Linked DNA regions of Homo sapiens. The protein of the gene in region 1 purifies or fractionates together with the protein of each later gene. This does not show direct contact. Each region holds a gene or a part of one and is shown on either strand. Other genes may lie near its edges.

Region 1 (4,053 bases):
GGACAAGGGACACAGGAGGCTGCACCTTGCCTTTACTGTCTGTATAAGTAATAAACTGTCTGAATCTATCCAAGCTCATTGTCTGCTTACTGGCTGAGTCTGTCAGCCTGCTGGACATACCCCTAGAAAGCCTCTGTTCCCATCTGACCCCCATTCCCCACCTGCACAAATCAGAAGCTAAAAGAGTATTTACTAAAGCATGAGATGTGCAAAAATCACCCAAGATGACCTCAGGTGGCACTCACAGGTGTAGCATTAAGTGACTCCAAATCTCCTATCTACTTTCCAAACTTCTACAACCTTCTATCCAATATGGTAGCTACTGGCCACATCTCCTGTCTATCTACTTTCCAACTTTCTAGAACCTTCTATCCAATATGGTAGCTACTGGCCACATTGCCTTTCTAGCTACTTTCCAACCTTCTAGAACCTTCTATCCAATATGGAAGCTACTGGCCACATCTCCTTTCGATCTACTTTCCAAACTTCTAGAACTTTTATCCAGTATGGTAGCTACTGGCCACACCTCCTTTCTATTTACTTTCCTGCCTTCTAGAAACTTCTATCCAATATGGTAGCTACTGGCCACATCTTTCCAACTACTTTCCAAACTTCTAGAGCCTTCTATCCAATATGGTAGCTACTGGCCACATCTCCTTTCTACCTGCTTTCCAACCTTCTAGAACCTTCTATCTAATATGGTAGCCACTGGCCATATGTAGCTAATTAAATTTAAACTTAAATAAATTAAGATTAAACAAGATTCAGTTCTCTACTCATGCTGGCTACCTTTCAAATCCTCAATGGTCACATCTGGCCAGTGGCTCTGAAATGGATGGTGTAGATGTAGAACATCTCCATCATTGCAGACAGGTCCACTGAATGACACTGGTCTAGAAAGTCTTGGTGTGTTATTAGTGTGTCCTTAACACCTCTCTGTGTCTCACTAATCTCTCTCTCTCACTCTCTTTTTTGTTTTTTAATTTTTTTTTTTTTTACAAAAAATGATCAGGCCACATGCTTAGCAGCAAGACTATTTAGCTAAAAATTAATAGCATTAAAACATTATGTTTATTTTTACAGTTACCTTCTACTTTAGGCGGGTGATGTTGGCTTTCAATTTACGGCTGGGAGGGACATTTTTAGATCCAACACTGGATTCTAAGGATCTCCTGCAGAACTGCCTCATCCAGTGGGCAGGGTCTGTGTAAATGGCACCCTCCTACTGTTGGGCAGTGCGCAACCTGCATAATCTTACATGGCAGTCCTGCACACTCCTCAGTACTTCAGGAGGGCACAACAGTAAGAGCCTAGGGAGAGGGGACCTAGAATATCTAAAAGTCCTAGCACCCGTCTCTAGGTCCCTTCCTGTCCACCCTCTACCCCAACTCAGTGTCCCCCTAGACTCACGCTCCACTCAGCACTTTCAAAGATCGCACAGTCTCGAAGCCAAGCTCCAGCACGCTGGGGCACTCGGCCGTGAACTCGTGCCGCCGGCCCTGGAAGCCGTCCTCATCCCACACCACCATCTGTGCCAGGAAAAAAAAAAGGTGGAGATCCGCATCAGAGTCCCGTGAAGGGTGAGAGGTTGGGGGCTCGCCCCAGGATCTGGCAGGTAAAGCAGGGATTGCAAACTCAGATTCCTCCAGGAGCCAGGAAGGCAAGAGCAGTGATAAATGTGAGACACTAGACAGCACAGGTGCCAGGTAAATGGGTGGCCTCTTCCCAGTGCCACCAATGGTTGCCAAGTGGGAATGCAGGCCAGACCTTCCAATTTCTCAAGACAATCACTAGATCTGGACTTTTATGTGGTTCTTCCAGGCTTTTAAAGGCTGATGATAAATCCAAAAGCTTTATAAAACAAACAAACACACACAGAGATGGTCAAAGAAATCATGCCCAAAGACTGCAACCTCTGCCAAAGAGTGTAACAGGTCAACTTTGGGAACCAGAAGACCCAAATTCACATTCAACCTCCCTGTATGTGACATACAAGTCCCTTCTCAACTCTGAGCCTTGATTGCACCTCTGTGAAATAGGCATTTATAATGCCCCCCTCCTAGGATTCATGGGGACCTGAACCCTCCCCATACCCCCTGAACACCCCCTCCCCATGCCTCTTCCTACCTTCCAGGGTCCCGCTGACTTTGTGCATTGCAGGGTCATTGTGGCCCCTTCCTGCAGAAGAGAAGAACATTATAATCTTCCACCCTGACCCTCTGCTCTCCTCTTTATGCAGATGGCTGGCTTGGACCTGGTCAGGATCCACATAGGGAGTCCAGGAGTGACTGGGCTAGGGGCAATGCATGGCTTTGGCCTGTCCCTCTCCTGTCCTTTCCATCTGTCACCAATGCCATCTTCCATCCTATCCCCATCTCAAAACTCACCCTTGCTGGGTCTCATTGACTCTGAGCCCCACTCTGTATTCTCTTATCTGCTTGTTATGGGAAAATTTTTGTGGCTGCTGGTGGGTGGGTGCATCACCCCAGCGAGTGCTGAAATGCTCAGCATAAGAGAGCCCTTCCAAAGACAGCACCTAGCTCAAAGAGGTAGCTCTGATGGTGGAAATTTAGGCAATAGGGCTACAGGAATAATTTGTTTTTAAATGAGGGAAGCAGGTGCTGGTCTTGATGGTTGGGGCTCATCCTTGGTTAGGATGAGGATGGCATTCAGGATGACACAGTGACATCCCTAGGACTGGGGACCTGGGTTCCTCGCCTCCCAGAATGCTCACTCAGAACTCTGATCCCACCCCTCCTCCAAACCTGGGACTTACCGAGATAGGCCCAGGGAACATGTCAGATCTGAGACCAGCCGAGGTCGGGCTCTTATAGGCAGGGAGGGAAGAGGGGCCCCTGGGAGACAAAGCCCCGACTCAGCAACTGGGCCACAGAAACAAAAGCCAGCCCTGGCTGAAGAGCCAATGGCAAGCCGTCAGCAGCTCTGGCTTTAGCAGGGAGGGAAAGGACCAGATCACCACCCCCAGGGATCAGCCACGAAGAAGGAGAGAGGTGGAATATTGGCCCTCATCAGCCCCACAAGGTTCCTGACTAGAGCAGGAGAATGAGCACTAGATGAGGAGTCCAGAAGCATCCTTCCTAGCTATGTGAGCTCCAGCGAGTCATTTCCCCTCAATTTCTGCCTATAAAATGGGGCAGAAACAAACCATATCACAGAGTTGTTGTGAGGTTACATAACATGCCTGGTACAGAGTAAACATTCAGGAAATGCCTATTCCTTTCCTTCTCTCTTTCCCCTTTCTCTTCCAGTTGAAGCAATCCAGATAGGCTTGCCGTTAGAGGAGGCATTTGAACTAGACTCTGAAGGATGAGGAAGATATGTACAGAGTGAGATGGAAGGAGAGGCATTCTAAGAAAAAGTTCAGAGGTGGGAACTTGGGGCACATGTACAAGAAAGAGCTGGTAGCCCAATTGGCCTGGAGCTCAGGGGACCTGAAGGGAAGTGAGGCAGGAGAAGAGGGCTAGGCCAGGGCCTGCTGGGTCCACAAAGCCTGAAGATGAATCCGGATGGCACTGTGGGCAGCATAGAGGAGCTGTTAGTTGCAAACATGCTTTGCAAACTGTGGCACACTTGCCAAATATCCAGGACTTGTACAATTTGCTGTGTGCCTCTTGTCCCGAAACCCTGCCCTCTGAATTGGCGTATGAGGGACCTAAGAGGTCCCTCATACATACATACTTGTGTGTAAAATGGGTGTAACAAGCATAGGAAAACAGCATGACTGGAAACCAGATCATCTGAGATGAAATCCAGCCCTGCTTCTTTCTTACCATCCGTGTGACCTGGAGGACACCTGAGTCCTGCTCATGACCTGTAAAGTGGCCACACCAGTTTCCTTTTAAGAGGGTGAAATGCAGCTCTATCAAACGCATGACTTTAGGCTGGGCGCAATGGCTCACGCCTGTAATCTCAGCACTTTGGGAGGCCGAGGTGGGTGGATCACCTGAGGTCAGGAGTTCAAGACCAGGCTGGCCAACATGGTGAAACCCCGTCTCTACTAAAAACACAAAAATTAGCCGGGAGTAGCGCGGG
Region 2 (3,500 bases), on another chromosome or scaffold:
TGCATACTTAATAATGTTAGACATGTAAATCAAGTAGCAATATGCTAGTATTCTGTAAACCCCCTGTGGATTTTGTCTCTCACCTAATGGAATTCTTGTCCCATTTTAATCTGATGAAAAAGGTCTCTAGTGGCTGCTATAAACGGCATGTCTATGAAGTGCCTTCAGGAAAACATCTTATGGATCATGCCGCTATTGACAGAATTACTTGGGCTACATGGACTAGGTAAATACTTATATATTCACAAGGCAAGAACTGACTTTGAAGGCCAGTTAGAAAATCCTATTTCTGAACTGTTAGAGCCATTCCAATAAGGAATAGTAATTGAGTTTCAAGTTTTTGTTACCATATTTTGAAATGGTATGTTCATGTTGGGACCCCTTTTTATTGAATATATTTCCATGTTTTATCAGTTTCCATGATTTATCAAGTTTTTTTTTTAAGGAAATCAAAGTTTTAACTTTAAAGATACCCTGATATTTTTCTTAATGCTAAATTTAATGACTGGCAAAAAGGTATTGGGTGCTGTTAAGCAACTGTTATTAATTCTCTATCTAAAGGAATGCTATCTTGAATCTATTAGAAGTCAAAGCTTCCAAATTTGTTCAAATTTCCTGGCTGTATGACAGGTAACCATGACTATCCATTTTTTTGGCCAATGAAAAATGCCATCAAATTCCTGTATCAGCCAGGCATATAGTGGCTCATGCCTGTAATCTCTGATGTAGCAGGCCGAGGTGGGAGGATCACTTGAGCCTAGAAGTTTTGATACCAGCCTGGGCAACATAGCAAGACCCCATCTCTGAAATTTTTTTAATTCCTATGTCATAAGTCATTTTTATTTTTGTAGAGATAGGGATCTCACAATATTGCCCAGGCTGGTCTCAAACTCTTGGCCTCAAGCAGTCCTCCTGCCTCAGCCTCCCAAAATGTTGGGATTACTGGTATGTGCTGCTGGACCCAGCCAAGTAGCACTTTTAATTTGAAAAATAGTTCTATCAGTTTTCAGTCAGGCGCGGTGGCTCAGCCTGTAATCCCAGCACTTTGGGAGGCCGAGCGGGGGTGATCACCTGAGGTCGGGAGTTCGAGACTAGCCTGACCAACATGGAGAAACCCTGTCTCTACTAAAAATACAAAATAAGCCGGGCATGTTAGCGCATGCCTGTGATCCCAGCTACTCGGGAGGCTGAGGCAGGAGAATTGCTTGAACCCAGGAGGCAGAGGTTGCGGTGAGCCGAGATCATGCCATTGCACTCCAGCCTGGGTAACAAGAGCGAAAACTCCGTCTCAAAAAAAAAAAAAGAAAAAATAGTTCTATCAGTTTTCATAAAGTACTACTTTAATCTTAAAAAGATTAATCTAGAAACCCTTCAAATTATAAAATGTCATTTTTAAAAGGCAGGAGTTGATATCCTGATGAAATTCAGGTCTCCAAACAACTTACCATAATTTACTTCCTGTATTTTAAGTAACATGATAGGGTACTTAGAGATTAATTGCCAAGAAACTTTTTGAATATAGTCAACCTGCCCGCACTTGCCATGATGAGTTTTCTTTTGTTCCTTCCCTCTAGTATTCTAGGAGATGAGGTTTTGGGAATCTGGTCCAGACATGCTGAGAAAGCTGATGTCAACTGTGCCTGTGTATCTCATTCAGGAATCAGTCTTGTTACAGGAGATGACTTTGGCATGGTTAAGTTATTTGACTTCCCATGTCCAGAAAAATTTGTAAGTTTGTGTTTTGTTTACTATTATCAGTTTACTCCTAATTTTGATGTCTTATCATCAGCACTTTTCCCCATATATTTAAAATGTTTTGTCCTAATTTCTAAATTTTTCCCCAAACTTTCTAAATCTATTTACTTTGAAATAAAAGCTATTAGAAACAAATCCTCTCCCTCGAGTAATACCATCTTTGGAACCATCCTACAAAAGCTGTAATTAGCTTTTCACCAAACCTATAATCAGTTATCAAATTTCAAATGCTTTTCCTTAGAGAAAAATGGTCAGAGTACCTGGAGACATCTGACTGCCCACACAGCCTGGTTTTGCAGATCCACTACTCATGCTGAAAAGCATTCTAATCACTGGCTGCGGTGCTAACTCCCTACTCTCTCCACAGCTCTTGTCATAGAGATTATAGTTCCTAATAAGAGCCTTTGACTTCTGTGTGCACCAAATGCCCTGAGCTTGTCTGTCATTGTTTTTTAGGCAAAACACAAAAGGTTCTTGGGTCATTCGCCCCATGTGACAAATATTCGATTTACCAGTGGTGATCGACATGTTGTTAGTGCTGGAGGTGATGACTGCAGGTTAGTAACTTTCTCAGCCCATGAAGAGCAGACTATGTTACTAGTTAAGAGACTTAATACAACAACTCCTACAGCTTTGGTTTATGAAATCAGCTAGTCAACATTAGTAGAAGGTAGTATAACCAGATGGCTCTTCAGAATCTCATATTTATGCAAATACAGAATAAAAGGAGTTAAAGAGGAAAAATATTACACATGTAACCTGAAAGCACAACTGAAAAATATTAAACTGTTATGAAAATCTAAAAACATAATTAACTCCCTGCAATTTTCTTCTCTGATTGCAGCTTATTTGTCTGGAAATGTGTACATACACCTCACTGAGAGATGCTGAGATGACTACAGAAATTAACTTTGAGACCAGAATTACAGAGAAGAAAAACCAAAACCCAACCCTGCATGGTCAAGTGGTGCTAACCCAAGACTGTAACAGGGAGAAATGCCCAGAATCATCAAAATAGTGAAAGACTGATCTGTTCAAAATATTTGCTATATGCACTGGGTATAATCCGTAATCCATACACTGCCAGATAATGCCATTTCAAGGAAGGATCGAATACTTGATGGTAAAGGCCAAGTCCCCCTGTATTGGGAAGTGTGTGATTTCGGCAGACCTGCTGGGAAAATTTAGGGTAGAGCACTCTTTACAGAAGAACTCAAAAACCCAATTTGGATAATTTTCATTATCTTTTTAGCAAAATGGTTTCTTAATGTTTATATTTTATTTTCAAGGTTCATTGTTTAATGAAATATTTTATTCTTGCATTTCCATAAGGAAAGGGAAAGTCATGATCATCCTAAAGGATCACAGTTTTTAAAAGGCAAACATTTTCCCTAAGGAAACAGACACAAGCTTTCCTAGAGAATATGATGTTTTTTAGGCATTAATAAGGTCCTTTTTTATAAAGGACACTTTTCTCCTAGTAGTTTTGAATTCAGGAACAGATCCAAAGTTAGCAGTATATGGCTGCTACATTTCCATTTTCATTTTCGAGCCATCAGTTTATGTTCAGATGCCATCTCTGTAATCGCACATTTAAAACATAACTGTAGCCTCACTAATGGAAAAGTAGTATGATGAACAATCATTCCCAATGGTGTACAATGTAAGGGTTTTAGGGAGCAACAGTATTTAACTGGAAGAAAGAATTGCATATTTAATGTAGTCTAATATATACACATTTGTTT

What was found.
Region 2: the proteins of CRYBA4 (region 1) and EML5 purify together in Homo sapiens (affinity purification with mass spectrometry; 2 studies listed by BioGRID and IntAct, with this or other methods). This does not show direct contact.

The regions. Positions count from the first base shown.
Region 1 is NC_000022.11:26,620,710-26,624,762, reverse strand, and holds the start of CRYBA4 (beta-crystallin A4), read right to left. Parts: upstream 2,801-4,053; 5' UTR 2,777-2,800; intron 2,179-2,776; coding exon of another isoform or gene 2,167-2,178; coding exon 2,128-2,166; intron 1,530-2,127; coding exon 1,411-1,529; intron 1-1,410. UniProt on the Homo sapiens protein: Crystallins are the dominant structural components of the vertebrate eye lens.
Region 2 is NC_000014.9:88,614,954-88,618,453, reverse strand, and holds part of EML5 (echinoderm microtubule-associated protein-like 5), read left to right. Parts: exon of another isoform or gene 1-122; coding exon 123-226; exon of another isoform or gene 227-1,574; coding exon 1,575-1,728; coding exon of another isoform or gene 1,729-1,941; exon of another isoform or gene 1,942-2,211; coding exon 2,212-2,312; coding exon of another isoform or gene 2,313-2,409; exon of another isoform or gene 2,410-2,599; coding exon 2,600-2,636; 3' UTR 2,637-3,500. UniProt on the Homo sapiens protein: May modify the assembly dynamics of microtubules, such that microtubules are slightly longer, but more dynamic.